Linked DNA regions of Homo sapiens. The protein of the gene in region 1 interacts with the protein of each later gene in a pairwise test. Each region holds a gene or a part of one and is shown on either strand. Other genes may lie near its edges.

Region 1 (10,230 bases):
ACCTCTTCTATGAAGTCTTTCCTGTCTCTCATACCCAAGAAGAACTGATCACCATCAACTCCTTTTTGTTCCAATTTCCAATTTAAACTCTAAGTTATTTGCGGGAAGGGATGGAATCTTATTTTTTATAGCCCCCAAATGAGCACAACTGCCCACCATATCTTAGGCTGTGACTAAATGTTTCTGAATGTATAACAAAAAAATAGGAGTACCAAAAGGTATGTAATATACAAATCACAACAATAACTGTATGAGTTCTTAAAGGAAATACAAGCTGATAAACTTGGAGGTAGCAATTCACGGTTTCTCAATATTTGTCACCTGCTGTCTATAGCCAACAAGTGGCAGCAAACACCAAAACTTTAAAAGAAACATATGAGAAGACAAAGTACAAAAAAATTTTGTCTTTCCACTAGGTAATTTTTTCTGCCAATTTTGAAATAATCATCATATTCAATATCAGTGTTAAAATAACCTGCATCTGGCTGGGCACAGTGGCTCACTTTGGGAGGCTGAGGCAGGAGGATTGCTTGAGCCCAGGAGTTGGAGACCAGCCTGGACAATATAGTGAGACCTTGTCTCTACAAATTAGCAGCATGTGGTGGCACATGCCTGTGGTCTTAGCTACTCAAGAGGCGGAGATGCGAGGATCGTTTGAGCCTGGGATGTCAAGGCTGCAGTGAGCCAAGATCAGGCTACTGCACTCCAGCTTGGGCAACAGAGTGAGACCCTGTCTCTAAATAAATAACTGGAATTTGATTATGAAAACACCAGTGGTTCCATGGGAGCATAGTCTGAGAACTATTATAGTCAATGGAAAAATCACTGAATTTTCATGCCAGTAAGAGTAGGAATTGTGATAGCTGGGTTAGACACCCAGAATTGAAAAAAGTGAGCCACATGACATTGATTGTTAAAGTATTTTCTTAGAGCTGTAATTTCCTGATCTCTCAAATACAGGTTGTAGTATAATGATTTCTGTTATTCTAGTTCTTAACCACTCTAGGTTCAATCAGTGTTTCAGGAATATCACTATATTGTCAGATGTGGACTATCATTAATTTGTGCCACGCCATATAGAGGTGGTTCTCGAAACACAAAAGTACCTGTATACTTTAAGAAACCAAAGCTATAGGCAATATTTGTTGCTCAGCTTACTAAGCTATGTGCATGTCCATCAATGTGTACAGAGGATCTTGTTCTTAACTGAACTATCTTAAATACCCATAGTTTTGTCAGAAATTATTCTGTATGAAGGGGTGATGTAGCAACAATAATGCTGCAGAAAAATCACCTTGCATTGAGACTCAATACTACTACAATTAACACCCTTTAAGTTCAACTTGACCCTTCACATGAATTCATAATAGTAACAACCCTTTTTCCTGCCCCCACAGAATTTTTTCCATTTCTCAAGTTGGCTATTTTAGACCTCCTCCACTTTGCTCAAGGTTCCCACCCCTACCTCCTGTGTTATTTTCAGTGATGTATGACCTTTGTTACTAATGCAAAGAGAAAATGGAAACCACCAGGCATTAACTGCCTTAACTGCCAGCCTTCCATGGCCATGGAGCTAGAGATAAGGTGGATGCAGACATGAAAAGAGAGACGCACTTCCTCGGTCAATTCTTCTTGTCTCTTCAGTATCTCCCTCTGCTGGTTCTCACTAGCATTTAAACAGGCTCCATTTTTAAAAAGCAAAATAAAACTAAACCTCCTCTGAGATATAAACTTTTGTATATGTAGGGAATCTCTAAAAGACATATTAAGTTGCTAAGACAGAGACTGAAACTAGGTCATGGGGTAGATGTCAGTATCTGACCTTTTATAACATTCATTTTCTAAAACTACATGCATAATACCTCCTCAAAATTAAAAAAAAATTACTATCACAATGGTCTTTTCAAAAAAACTTGAAAAAAATTATAAACACCCTTATACCCATGTAGCCCTCTCGTTTTCTTGAAAGCTAGGATTCATGGAAGAATTGTCCATACTACTTGACTCTACTTTCTTACCTCCGGTTAATTTTTTTTTTTTTTTTGAGACAGAGTTTCACTCTTGTAGCCCAGGCTGGAGTGCAATGGCACGATCTCAGCTCACTGCAACCTCTGCCTCCTGGATTCAAGCTATTCTCCTGCCTCAGCCTCTCAAGTAGCTGGGATGACACGAATGTGCCACCACGCCCGGCTAATTTTGTATTTTTAGTAGAGACAGGGTTTCTCCATGTTGGTCAGGCTGATTCGAACTCCCGACCTCAGGTGATCCGCCTGCCTCAGCCTCCCAAAGTGCTGGGATTACAGGCGTGAGCCACTGCACCCGGCCTGGTTCATTCTTTAATTCATTCCTTTGGCTCTTCTCAGAGGTGCTCTAAGGGCATCAGTGACCCTCCATTACTAAATACAGTGGATTCTTTCCAGTTCTCTGACCTACTGTTTAATACTCTCCTGCTGACATCATCTTTTCTCTGGTTCCCATGATTTACTCTTCCCATTTTCTTTCTTTTTTTTTTTGAGACCGAGTCTCGCTCTGTCACCAGGTTGGAGTGCAGTAGTGCAAACTCGGCTCACTGCAACCTCCGCCTCCTGGGTTCAAGAGATTCTCGTGCCTCAGCTTCCCAAGCAGCTGGGATTATAGGCAAGCGCACCACCATGCCAAGCTAATTTTTATATTTTTAGTAGAGACGGGGTTTCACCATGTTGGCCAGGATGGTCTCAATCTCCTGACCTCATGATCTGCCCGCCTCGGCCTCCCAAAGTGCTGGGATTACAGGTGTGAGCCACTGCGCCCGGCCAACTCTTCCCATTTTCTGACTACCTCTCTTGCCAGTGTGTCTCAGACTCTGACAGTCCTTCCTATGAGTGTCCCCACCTACTCCTCAGGGCTCATCCTCAATCCTTGTTTTCTGCTCACATTTGCTTTGCTTGGGCTACTGCAATCGCCTCTTGCCACCCTCAACCCATTCAGGGCACAACAGCCAGAGTCATGTTTTCAACACATACATCTCAGCATGCTGCTCCCCTGCTTAAAACTACTAAATGGTTCTCTACGCCCTTAAGAGGAAGTCCAAAATCCTTTCCTCGGCCTATGAGGAGCCGCACACTCTGGGGCCTGCCCACCCCGCCAGCCTCACATGCTCCCTCTTACTTGCTCTGTTCCACTCACACCCTCTATTCCTTGAAGGCCCTCTTTCTACTCCTTGAAGTCAGGCTGTCTTCTGCCTCGAAATCCCTCCCACATATCCCTTTCTTCCTTTAGTACTAAGTTGAAACATCAGTTCCTCAGGGATACCTGCCCAGTCTCTCCAGGATAAGTGAGATCTTTCTGTCACATCAACACTTACGTCAACTACAATAAGTACTTTGTCCAACTGTATTTAAGGTATTTCTACCCTCACTGAACGATAAACTCTGTAGTATCAGGGACCGTACCCTCACATCAGTCATTGCTCAGATTCCCAATTCCTAGTGCAGGACATGGTAGATGGCCAGTAAATATTGGCTGAGTTCATGAACAGGAAACTGCATCCACTCCCAAGGCTTCCCTCTCTATCTTTTTGCCAATTACTTTAGGATCTATGTTTCTAGTTAGATCTCACTACTGATTTGAGCCCCACTTCCAGTTGGTTTAAGTTCCACTTAAAATGTCTTCAAGAAAGTACATTTTGAAAGTACTCAAGAAAGTTGAGTATGTTTTAAGTAGAACTTAAACCCACTGGAAATGGGTCCCCAAACCCAATCTAGTTCCTACTCCTGTATTCCTGGTGAACAGTAATACTGTCTACACCACTGCCCAAGTCAGAAACCTGTATTTTCCTAGACCTGGCACCTTCACTACCAGACCCCCACCCAACCCTGTGACCACAAGCCACAGACATACATTTTACATCCTTATTTTTTTTTAAAAAACAAAAGAACCGTGCACCTACTTTTCCTTGACATCGTTAATACTTTAGTCCAAGCACCATTGTTTCTGGTCTGGTTACTATGACAGCCATTCAGAACATGCAGCCATGCACGTGTTATTCCTTTCCCTATCAATCCCCTTTCTTTTTTGCAGAGAGAAAATTCTCTCAATTACAAACCTGATGTGTCACTCTCTTTAGAACCTGCCAACTAACTCCCCATTGCCTTAGGATGGCTGAAAAATCCTTCACTCACCTCTTTCTTTCCCACATCCATCTCCGACCACCTCATTCTCCAGACAGAAGCCCTAGTCAATTACAATGCTCGCCTTTTCAGGCTCCACTTGGACATCACTTCTGGGAAGCTTTCTGTGACCTATCCAAGGTGCACCTCCCACAGATCTTCTAACGATGTTTGCCACAGCACTTTTTATACATCTACACTGCAACGGGTTATTTCTTTGTCAAACTTTCTCACTAGGCTGTGAGTTCTTTATAGTGAGGGAGTTTCTTATTAATCTTTCTATTCCCAGTGCCTAACACAGTGTCTGGCACACAGAAGAAACTCAAATATTTGTTGAGTAAGTATACGAGAAAAAGAAACAGGAGATACGAGTCAACAGAATGCTGCTATCATCTAAGCATGAAGCCAGGAAGGCCTAGTCTAATAGTGAATGTAGGCCCTAGAAACATGACCGAAGCAAAAGACAATTCAATTCAATGACCATGGACCAAACACCCGTTCTGTACCGGGACTAAAATGAGACATAGTCCTGGCCCTCAAATGGTGGATGATTTGGCAGGGAAGATCTGATATAAACAAGACCATAAAGTGCGACAAGTTCTAGAGTAATGGCAAGAATGGTGCTTTGTAAATCCTGAACATAAATCAACTAATTTTGCTGGAGGTGAGGAAGGGCAGGTGGTTCTACAATAGGTGGTGACCTATGCACTGAACTGTGCAGGCTGTGTAGGATTTTGCGGTCCAGGGAAGAGAAATGGTAGTATTCTGAAGAGGGAAATGGATGAGGAAAGGGGACACAAAAGTGCATGATATGTTCAAGGCATTAGAATATAAGCTGGGTCTGTTCTTCAGCTATGTTTCCAATGCTTAGAACAGTGCCTAGCTCATAACAGGTGCTCAGTACATCTTAGCTAAATGAAATGATCTATAAATATTTCAATTTCAGAAAATAGGATATATGACAAGAGATGAGGCTGGAAAGGTGGCGGGTGGCCAGATGATAAAGAACCTTGGTCCTATGCTAACATGTCTCAGATGAGACTGTTAAATAGGGAACCATGAAAAGGTCTAAAGCAAGGCTTGAATGCAATCAGAGCTAGGTTTAAGAAACAACTATAATGGCACGGTAGACTATGGTATTGAGACAGTATCTTTCATGAGCTAAGTGAAGGTGGTCACACAAGAAAAGGACAAGGTCATAAGATCCTTCACCTACTCTGAATTTGTAAAAGAAAGAGAAAGAGAAGAAAAAAGGCAGAGGTATGCTAAAGTAATGCTGGCTTAGAGATTCAATATCTGTGCCAGACAGAAGAAATGGGGGATGTATGTGGGGTACTGAGGACATAAGAGAGCAAAGGAAGGTCACTTATTCCGAAGCAAGAAAAGGGATGAACTGATGAGAAAGACTAAGAAGAAACTAAACAGCAAAAATGATCTGAAACTGAACTACAACACTCAGGATTCCACACAAGAATCTTGGTAGCTCCCTTAATGTAAGCACAGACCCGTAAGTAACTATTACTAATTCTCTCTGTGAAAGCACAGCAGGAATGAACAGGAAAGGACAGAGAGATAGAGATAACATAATATGATAACCCATTAGATTTAGAGAGTAAAAAGAAACGAAGAATTAAAGATATATGCAATCATGAGGTTAGGTAAGTGGGAGAATTATGTTTCTGTTAACCAAGATAGGGAACACTAGTGCAAAATCCAGGTATGAAGGAGGAAAATAGGTGCAGTTTTGAATGTGAACTTGGATACCTGTAGGGTATCCAGTTCGCAATGAAGCCCAGAAAGGGCTCAAGGCCTCAGAAAGATTGAATGAGCCAAACACATACAAGTAGAAACCACTGGGAAAGAGGCTGCCTACAGAGCAACTACAAGGTGAGAAGGCCAAGAACAGGGCCTTGAAGACTATCAACATTTCAGAGGAGAGATAAGAGATAGTAAAGGAGGTTCATAAAGAATAGTAAGAAAAACAGGTGGAAAAGAAGTAGGAATAGAGGTAAGAATAATCACAGTAAGCACTCACATAGTATAATTACCACGCTGGCCTTTGTTCCACGCATTCTATCTATGTTAACTCATTTAATGCTAGTAACACCCTGTAAGAATAGTACAATAATGATCCTTGTTTCAAAGATGAAGAAACTGAAAGACAGAAAGGCTAAGTAACTTGCTGAAGATCACACAACTTATAAATAAGGGGCAAATGTTAAACCTAGACAATTTCTCCATAGACGAGAGTTTCAAAGAGGAAAAGGTAGCCAACAGTGTTAAATGGGGAAAAGTTGAATAAGATGCAAGGTCTTCAAATCTGACGACTAAAAGGTCACTGAGGGGCACAAGTCAGAATAAGGTGGGTTAAAAAGCTAATGGGAAGTGGAAAGACAACTCACAGAATGGGAGAAAATTTTTGCAAATCACATACTAATAAGGGATTTGTATCCAGACTATATGAAGTATGATTCCAAGAATAAACAGACAATCCAATTTTTAAAATGCGCAAAGGATCTGAACAGACATTTCTCCAAAGATATACAAATGGCCAATAGGCACAGGAGATGCTCAGTATCATTAGTCAGAAAAATACAAATCAAAACCACAATGAGATGCCACTTCAAACCTACTAGGAAAACTATCATCAAAAAGTCAGATAACATCATGTTTTGGCCAGGATGTGAAGAACTGAAACTCATACACTGCTGGTGGAAATGTAAAATGCAGTGCTTTGGAAAAGAGTCTGGCAGTTCCTCAAACAGTTAAACACAGAGTCACCATATGACCCAGCAATTCCACTCCTCGTTATATACCCAAGAACCATGAAAACTTATGTCCACACAGAACCCTGTAGGCGAATGTTCATAACAGCCTTATTTATAATAGTCCGAAAATGGAAACAACTCAAATGGCCACGAAGTGATGAATAAGTTAAATGTGATATATCCATACAATGAAATATTATTTGGCAATAAGAAGGAATGAAGTATTGATATATTTCACAACATGAATGAACCCTGAAAACACGCTGAGTGAAAGGGGCCAATCACAAAGGACCACATATGGTATGATTCCTTTTATATGAAATGTCCAACCAGGCAAATGGACAGACAGATGTAGTGGCTGCCCTACGGCTGGAGGTAGAAGGGTAACTGAGGAAGTCTGGGGGTAACAGGTGGTAGCTAAGGGGTTTACTGTTTCTTTTTGGGATAATGAAAAGTGTTCTAAAACTGACTCCTAAAGTATACTAGAAAATCTGTGGGATTTTTTTTTTTTTTTTTTTTTTTTTTTTGAGACTGAGTCTCGCTCTGTTGCCCAGGCTGGAGTGCAGAGGGGTGATCTCAACTCACTGCAACCTCCACCTCTGGAGTTCAAGCAATTCTCCTGCCTCAGCCTCCTGAGTAGCTGGGATTACAGGGGCCCGCCACCATGCCCGGCTAATTTTTGTATTTTTAGTAGAGACGGGGTTTCACTATGTTGGCCAGGCTGGTCTCAAACTCCTGACCTCGAGTGATCTGCCCGCCTTGGCCCCCCAAAGTGCTAGGATTACAGGCGTGAGCCACCGTGCCCGGTTTACAAAATCTGAATTGTACACTTTAAATAGGTGAGCTGTATGATAGCATGTGAATTATATCTCAACAAAGCTGTTAAAAAAATTAATGGGACATGCAGTAGTAGAAAAAGACAGAAAACACTTGCATGAGGGGAGAGGCAAGGCCAAAGAAAATCTCTGAAGGTTAGGGAAGATCTGAATGTGTTTACTGACTGAGATATATCAGTAAAAAAAGAGAGCTTGATGTAAACAAGACATCAGAGAAGAAAAAAAGTCTGGCGGGGTGCAGTGGCTCACGCCTGTAATCCCAGCACTTTGGGAGGCCAAGGCGGGCAGATCATGAGGTCAGGAGTTTGAGACCAGCCTGGCCAACATGGTGAAACCCCATCTCTACTAAAAAATACAAAAATTAGCTGGGCATGGTGGCGGGCACCTGTGGTCCCAGCTACTCAGGAGGCGGAGACAGGAGAATCGCTGGAACCCAGGAGGTGGAGGTTGCAGTGAGCTGAGATCGCACGACTGCACTCCAGCCTGGGCGACAAGAGCGAGACTCTGGGCCTTTAAAAAAAAAAAAAAAAACTCCTATAGGGGGTAGATAGGAAGAAAAAAGAAAAATGGTGACACCTCTGGAAGTAAGAATAAGTGTGAACAGCTGGTGGTGAAGGTAAGTTGAGAGTTTACAAATGAAAGATCCTATTTTTCATTGAGGTAGGAGGTCTTCAGCAGAAAATGAGAAATGGATAGAGTAAGAAACCCAGAAAAGTAATCCAAGTTGGAAAACCTGCTGACAAGAATGGGAAAAGCAAGCAAGATAAAAAGCTTGTCAGGTAGAACTGAGCAGTGTGAGAACAGAAATAAGTTATAATGGGGCTGATATGCATGATTGTATAATATTCTCAGCTGGACTGGTCAGTCCATAGCTTGTAAACTGAGATGGCAGATGACTGGGGCTGTTTCAGGGGCCGAAGGATGCTGAGAGTGCAGGTGAGATGCATGGGCATAAGATCCCACTGAGCAGGGAAGGCAGTGATACTAAAGAACTTGAAAGAATGGGATTTAGTGACTGATTCAATATAGAAGATGAAGGAGGAAAATAAAGACTTAAACAAGATTCCCGATTCACTTATCTGATAGATTTGGTAGATTAATGACCAAAACAGTTCTTGGAAAGTGAGGTAGGCTATAGACAGATGAATTACTCAAAAATATACAGTTTAGATCAAAAAATCTTTTGAGAACAACTCTGCCGTTTTTTAAGAGCAATAAAGGAAGGCTTAGAGAAGTGAAACGAGTTTGCTTAAGTCCTAAGGTACTAAACAAAAGCTGGAAATGACTTTGCAATCCAGGCCATTCTATTATAACCTAGAACCTGACTAAATCTGGAGTGTGACAAGATGGCAGGAAATGCAAATGGTGATGTTCTTGAGAGTCAGTAACACTAAAATTGGTTTGAAACGGTAGGTTCATTTCAGGTGATAGTGGGGAAATACGATCCACGAACAAAACGAAAGACAATTGGAGATCAAACATTTGCTCTGGTAACCCACACGGAGATAATCAAGAGTTGGATGTAGAGGGATATGAGCACCTGAAAATATTCTAATGCAAGAACACTTTATGCTTCAAAATCCTCTCAATGCTATTTGGCAACACAGATGATAGGACATATAAATTTATCATGCCTTAGAATTTTAAACATTAAGAAGAGCTTTTCTTTTAATGTTCTTTTTATGTTACAGAAATACGAAATACTGAAGTCTGATTAGGTCTCTTGTAAGGGGCTAGATATTTGCCTTACCTTTACTACCTTGTAGTCACACAAGTATTCCACCTCATAATTGTTTAGATTCCTTTTGGTGATTCCAATCGATTTACATGTGAGCTTTTCTTTTCTACATAATTCCTGAAGAGTATCAAGTGAAACTAGGCAAGGCACACACCAAGCTACAATAAGAAAATAGAATTCTTTACTAATGAAATAGCTATTCAATTAAAACAAAAAAGAGAAACTTAAAACCTCTATTCCCCATCTTTCAACTGGCAATTTTAGACTAAAAATTCCTATGACAAGAAACCAGTTACATGTCTTCAAGAAAAAGTTAAACATTAAGGAACTATTTTGTTAAATTGGTGTTCTTGGATTTTCTCATGGATTTCTATTCCACTACGTTTAACTGACATCAGTTAATTTCCATTAAGTCACTTGAAAATGTTTCATGTCTGTAAGCTTTTTTAAGATTATATACAGATGCAGGTCAACAGAGATAATGTTTTTCACTTTCATTGTATTCTACATAGACTACAATCACTATTTTAATAAAATGTAAATCTCTAGGACACTTATTCTTAAAAACATATCTAAAATATACTTTAAAACAATCTTATAATTTGTTAACACGTAACTTTCATTTTTTTTAACTGGACAAAACGAACTGAAATCTAATTAAAATATATTTCTACGGTTACAAACTCATTATATGTTAGTTTTCTCTTTGATATGTTGCATGAAGCTTTAATTCCACTTAT
Region 2 (7,068 bases), on another chromosome or scaffold:
AGTGACTACCCTTGACTGGTTCACAGTTTGTTCCAGAGACAGATAATGAGGCAACAGTTCCAGTACAGTGTGAATCCTGCTGCGATAGGAACACAAATGCAGCTTTGAGCTCCTGCAGCTTGTACTTCTTCAGGGGCTTATTCTCTTGTCCTGTAAGTAGTACACTTTTGAGGTAAGGTGAAGACAACAGCACTGTTGCTTGCTCGGTTTGTGTTTTGTTTGTTTCTTTTGCGATTGGCATAACGGAACAAAGAAATAAAAGATGTAGTTCTGAGGTTATGCAGTTGAGTGGCCCGGCTGGGAGCAGCCCTCTCCAACCAAATCAGGCCTTTCTTTCCTCAAACAAGATAATCTCAAAACATAACCTGGTGGTTTTATATGTCTTCACTGTGGAGATGTTTTGTGCTGTTCCTCTTTTTGTTTATAACCTATTTTTCCTTTCAATAGACTTGGTTCTTTTTTTTTTTTTTTTTTTTTTTGAGACAGGGTCTCGCTTTGTTGCCCAGACTGGGGTGCAGTGGCATGAACACGGCTCACTGCAGCCTCAGCCTCCTGGGCTCAAGCGATCCTCCCACCTCAGCCTTCTGAGTAGCTAGGACTACAGGCATGCATCACCACGCATGGCTAATTTTTTAATTTTTGTAGAGACAGAGTCTTGCTGTGTTGCCCAGGGTGGTCTTGAACTCCTGGGCTCAACCAATCTTCCTGTCTTGGCCTCCCAAAGTCTTGGTTCTTTTCACTAGGACATTCTCTTCCTCCACCAAATTATGGAGATAAGAACTTTGTTTATAACCTTAAAATTTTCTCAGTAGTCAGTGGTGTTAACATTGGGCCACTACACAATTACACACACTATTCTTGAGAATGTCTAGGAGTGTTTTATTAGGTAATACCCAGTTTCTTTAAGGTAAAGGAGTGATAGGGAGCTGAGGCTGTGTGCATAGGGTGCTTGGATTTGTTTCTCTGGCCGAGCATACCCTTAAAAGTGTCGGGCAGTAGAAAATGGATGGAATTCCACTCCTGAATCTGCTACTGTTACTTTTGGCAAGTTACTCAATCTCTCTGAGGTTGTGTTTGGAGGTATGTAAAATAAAAATAAAAATAGCTATTTAGTTGAGTTGTTAGGAAGAACAAGTAACATATGTAAAGTGTCTCCATGCTGGCATGCCATAGTAACCCCATAAATGATTGCTGTTGTTATCTTTGTAAGTGAGATATACCAGTGTCTTTCTGACCGTGTCTTTCTGACCGTGGGATTTTGAGCTACTGGTGTGCCTTTGCTTTATTCTTGGTCTCATTCCTTCTTTATGTCTCAGAATATCTCTGTTGTTCCAAACCAAAGTTTGAGCAGACACAGTATAGTAAATGAGGATAGCCAGTGTCCAAGGTAGCTGGTTATATTTTTTCCAGAGGTGATCACTGCCAAGTTAAATTAAAAAGGGAAGACCAGAGTTTCCCTGTCAGTTCTAATGGGCATCACAGTTGCATTTCCACGATATAAGGAAAAAGGACACTTGTGATGTAGTTCTCTGGCAGGTATTGTGGGCGGGAACATGGTAGTAGCATCCAGCTCCAGTCTGCCCCTGTCCTGCCTCCAGTCAGGGCTGTACGCTGTGGACCAAAGATCATGCTCGCTGATGAGAGCCACCCTGCTGGTGACCTCAGTGCTGCCGACCCATTTACATCCCAGCCCTGCCACATTCCTACAGTGGGAGGTTGAACACATTTCTTAACCTTGATGAGCCTCAGTTTCATCATCAGTAAAATGAAGTTAATGGAACCATGGAATCTACCTTGGAGAGTTGCTAGAAGAATTAAATGAAGTCACATATGTTTAGTGCCCAGCACAGCGTCCAGCACATAGGTGGTACAGAGTAAGTGGTAATTTTAGTTTTCTTTCTACCCTCTTTGTGGAGGACATTCATGCAAACCCTCTCTTTCCCTTTTTACCTCTTTTCTTCCAGTCTGTTTTTATCCCTTAGAGTATTAAATGCAATAAACAGGATTTGGCTAAATGGACATAGTAGTATTTTTGAAAAAACTAGCCACAATCCAGTTATATCACTTCTCATTCTCCTGAATCAGTGTGTTTAACCTACTGGTTGACATCCATTAGTAGATTATGAAATCCAGTGGGTCACAACCACAATTTTTGTTTATAAATGGAATAGACTAAAATAGGAAAAAGCCACAATGTGTATGCATATTATCGATAAATATTGTTTGGGAAAACCTTTGTTCAGGTCCTGATGTATTTCATACTGTGATTATGAATTTTTGAAAGTTCAGAGAGCTCTTCTAACACAAATTATACACTGTACAAATTCTGTGTTGTTTTTCTTTCACTGAGAGCTTTTTTAAACATGATGTTACAATTTCCTTATTCATTATTGCACAGTGGCTCTTCTATGGATAAGCATTGGTACTGAAGACAGTACATTAGTCCTGGTGTTTTTAGCCCGGAAGACTGGGCAAAGCGGGATAAGCATGCATTGCTGTGAAGCGCATCAGAGTTTTGGAGCAGAGTCTGGGTAGAGCATGTGTGGTGGGAGGTAATGATCCCAATGCATAGGTTCTTATTCTAGTTTTTTGAGGGTGCTTTGGGGTCAGTTACTGTTCCTTTACCTGAAATAAGTTAGAAAAAGAAAAGGAGGAATTGCAATTTATTTGCAGGGAAATAATGAGCCTTAGTGAGTTGTATTTGGTAAAGTGCTTTGATATCACCTCAAAGGCATTCCTGAAATTATTCTTCATTCTATGCCTAATGGGTTATATTTTGAAGTTGTGATCCAATTATTGCTAACATAGTACTTTAAATTCCCACTGTGCTGGGCACATTAACGAAAATCCCTTGAGTAGATCTGCCTCTGTGCACCTTAATTCTTGTTCGTACACCATCCAGTATGTAAATATTTCTCTAGTGCTTTTTGTGTTCTGAGCACCGTGGATGAAAATGATAGGAAATGCCTTTCAGCTTATGACTTTGCTCAGCTGCTCTCTGAGCACTGAGGAGTTTGTCTTCCTAAAAACGGTAAACTAGCATTCTTATTAAGTTGCTATTTGAGTTTTATGTCCAGAGCTGCTGCTGGTGGGCCCAGGGGTTGTGAAATTTCTTGGCCGTGAGTTTGAAAATGGTTGAATAAAATATAATTAAAAACAAGCAGGCCAGGTGCGGTGGCTCACACCTGTAATCCTAGCATTTTGGGAGGCCATGGTGGGTGGATCACCTGAGGTCAAGAGTTTGAGACCAGCCTAGCCAACATGGTGAAACCCTGTCTCTACTAAAAATACAAAAAATTAGCCAGGTGTGGTGGTGGGTGCCTGTAATCCCAGCTACTCAGGAGGCTGAGGCAAGAGAATCCCTTGAGCCCGGGAAGCAGAGGTTGCAGTGAGCCGAGATCGCACCATTGCACTCCAGCCTGGGCAACAAGAGCGAAACTCCATCTCAAAAAAAGAAAGAAAGAAAGAAAAAGAAACAAGGAAATCGTAGTACCATAAGAGGAAAGAATGACACACTCCTACACTCCTGCAAGACATCCAAGATTACAAAAAACCAGACTGCTGGTTCCTGCTGGGATGATCACACTACAGCTGTGCTAGATGACCACACCCCAGGTACACAGATAGGCCTGACCTGTGTTTATCTTATGGACTTGAGAGGAGAGGCTGCCCTTTTAAACACTTTTTTTATTGGATAGACTTTACTGGTGCTTAGGTAGGGGCTAAAGTCAGAACAGATAATAGCCCTTCAGTCATAATCTTTTAAAAACTGGCTTTTCTGGCTCCAATTCTGAAATTGCCCTGACACTGTAGTCTAAAGGATTAGAAAGCGAGCTCTAAACCAGAGCTCCAGGAATCAAATGGTACTGGTACTATCAATAAAAGAAGCCAGGGAACCAACAGGTACCTTTCTTTCCTCGCATTCTGGTTTCTGCATGTGCGGGTGTGTGGATCTTCCTCCTCCTCTGTAACTTTTCCACTTAGAAATGAAATTGACCTTTTTTCTTCTTTTCTTCCAGACTCGCTCTTTACTGAGCGTGTTTGAAGAAGATGCTGGCACCCTCACAGACTATACCAACCAGCTGCTCCAGGCAATGCAGCGCGTCTATGGAGCCCAGGTATGCTGCCACCCCTCACCTGGATACCGCAGAGTGGGCATTCTCTCCCCTCATCCTGAACTTCCCTCAGAGGTTGAGAAATTGGAATCCGAAAAACATCATTTAAGATTTTGAAACAAAATCAGAACTGTTTTCTCACTACTTTTCACCTCAAAAACCTAAGGACAGTCTGTTCTCATTGCTTAAGAGTGATTTGTCTTTAATTAGAACCATTAGAGATGGGCCACATAACTGCTCCTAATTTTTTTTTTTAAATTCAACCCAGTGGGAAACATTTGAGTCTCCTCTTCCTACTTGTGAATAAGTGGGTCCAGTATTTTGACACATACTCTTTGTCTTTTTCATAAATGGGCAGAGTCTTAGATGTCAGTGTGGGAGGGCAGAGATGTTTTTTCAACTGCTTCCTCTGAAAAGACTTGAGTCACAGTTCTGAAACTATCGGGTGGCTTCTTTGTTTGTGGAACAAATATCTCTGGCTTGCAAAAGCATGCAAAAGAAATTGCTGAGTAGCAAAAGTGAATCTTTTTAATGTCAAGAAGTGCCCATGTATGTTGCTTTCTAAGAGAAGATTTATGAGTTACTTAAAAATAAAATGCTTTATGTTACAAAGCATTGAACACATCACAATATTATGGTAACTGATCATTTTCATTGTTGATTCCTTGCTGACTTAAATCTTATGTGTTGATATTTTTCTCATTAATAATCTCTTAAGGAATATAGATTGGGCATCCCAAATTTGAAAATCCAAAATCCGAAATGCTCCAAAATCTGTAACTTTTTGAGTGCTGACACGACACATAAACGAAATGCTCATTGGAGCATTTTGGAGTTTTGGATTTGGGAAGCTCGACTGATACAGCAAATACTTCAAAATCTGAAAAAATCCTAAATCCTTCTGGTCCCAAGCATTTCAGATGCAGGGTACTTAACCTATACCACATTCAGTAGTATATAGCTCTTACTAATATATATAGTCATTTCTTATTACATAGGTTCACCACTCTATTACTGCTCATTGTTTTATTAGTCATTTCCCATCATATGGGAATAAGACTCAGTCCTTGCCGTTGGGGAGCTGACAGTTGGGTTGGGAGGCAGACAAAGCAATCACCAGAGAGCCTTAGAGGGGCCAGGAGAGGAGAGCCACCTAACCTAGTGGGGTTGTGCTGGGCACGCAAAAGGAGGGTGATTGTAAGAGTTGAGATTTATTGAATACTTAATAGCATCCAGGAACTTCCAGGGGCTTTTATGTTGATTATTTTATTTAAATTCCCCTAACAACTCTGAGGTGGGTATTGTTATTGTTATTATGCCTATGGTATTGGTTGGGAGACTTAAGGATTCTGATGGTGAGAAACTTGTCCAGGTGCACCCATTTAATTCATGGCAGAGCAAATCAGCTGGAGCCAAGCTGAGACTCTTCACTCCTAAGCATAGGGGAGGTGGCAGTAGAAGTGGAAAGAAGCAGCTGTACTTGAGAGGTATTTAGGAGGTGGATTGGTGATTGATTGGGTATGAAGGGGTCAGGTGGTAAAGGATGAATCAAGAATGATGTTCAGGTATTCATCTGGAACGGCAGGGTGGATACATGGGAGAACACAGGAAGAGGCGCAGGGTGCGTATGAGTGTGTGTGCGTGCCTGTGAGTGCATATCTGTCATGGGGATGCCCAACTGTAATTCTCTCTGGAAACACTGATTTTGAGGAGTTCATGGGACATCAAAGTGGATAAAGAGATCTTGTTGAAAGTTCAGATCCAGAGTACAGGGCTGGAGATATAGATAGGCAAACTATGCAGTAAGGTATAAGTGTAACTTATTAATTAGAACTAGCTTTGGGCTGGCCTGTAATCCCAGCACTTGGGAGACCAAGACGGGAGGATTGCTTGAGGCCAGGAGTTTGAGACCAGCCTAGTCAATATAGTGAGGACCTGTATCTACACAAAATTTTTGTAAATATTAAAAAAAGGACTAGAGTCTTTTTTTTTTATTTTTAATTTTCAGAGACAGGGTCTTACTCTGTCACCCAGGATGGAGTACAGTGGCATGATTATACCTCACTGTAGCCTCTAACTCCACGGCTCAAGTAATCCTCCTGCCTCAGCCTCCTAAGTAGCTAGGACTACAGGTGCACACCACCACACCCAGCTAATTTTTTTTCTTTTTGATTTTTGGTAGAGATAAGGTCCTACTATGTTGCCCAGGCTGGTCTGAAACTCCTGGCCTCAAGTGATCTGTCTTAGCCTTCTGAGTAGCTAGAACTAGTTTTAATGACCAAAAGAATTATGTGTTCACCTGTGATTTTATGTGTTTTGTTAAGACATTCAGAATTTAGAGAAATGAGAACTTCGTCAATTTTTGTTTTTGTATTTTTCCCTAAATATTCTAGATTTAAGAAAACAGGAATGTTCTTACTGGGCTTATACCTGAAATTGCTTGCTATTCAGCAATTTGTATTTCGTCACTAAGTGATTTGTCTCTTATTTAAGGCTTAAAAACCCAAGACGTGAGAGACTGTGTCTCTGTCACTCTGAGGAGTCTCTGTTCTGCCTTTCGGTGTCTGTCAGAATCATCTACTTGGGGTTATCCAAACGCTGTCTCATGCATTTTTTTCTGTTGAGGCAGAAAACGACATTTTGCCAAAATTAAGTGGGTCTTTCCTTCCTAGAGGCTGTAACCCAGCTTTTAATGCGCAGCATATGATCATCACGTGGGTTCTCCTGCTGGCCAGAAACCCTTCCTCCTGCCTCAGCGTTTCCTGCAGCACAGGCTGGTGAGAATGTCTGGTTAGTGCTGCCAGATTCAAAGACAGAGTCAAGCAGTGATCAGCTGTGTTCAGATTGGCTGGGCCAAGGACACTTGGTTTTTCAGGTTTCTTTGAAAGCTTAGGTGTTTCGTTTTGTTTTTAATTGAAGAAAGAAATCTTTTCTGATTCCTGTTTTGATCTGT

The links.
Region 2: the proteins of SUV39H2 (region 1) and APPL2 interact in binary tests that used the Homo sapiens proteins (3 or more experiments, as listed by UniProt).

The regions. Positions count from the first base shown.
Region 1 is NC_000010.11:14,880,918-14,891,147, reverse strand, and holds part of SUV39H2 (histone-lysine N-methyltransferase SUV39H2), read right to left. Parts: intron 9,649-10,230; coding exon 9,503-9,648; intron 1-9,502. UniProt on the Homo sapiens protein: Histone methyltransferase that specifically trimethylates 'Lys-9' of histone H3 using monomethylated H3 'Lys-9' as substrate.
Region 2 is NC_000012.12:105,226,175-105,233,242, reverse strand, and holds part of APPL2 (DCC-interacting protein 13-beta), read left to right. Parts: exon of another isoform or gene 1-3,600; coding exon of another isoform or gene 3,601-3,615; intron 3,616-4,019; coding exon 4,020-4,118; intron 4,119-7,068. UniProt on the Homo sapiens protein: Multifunctional adapter protein that binds to various membrane receptors, nuclear factors and signaling proteins to regulate many processes, such as cell proliferation, immune response, endosomal trafficking and cell metabolism.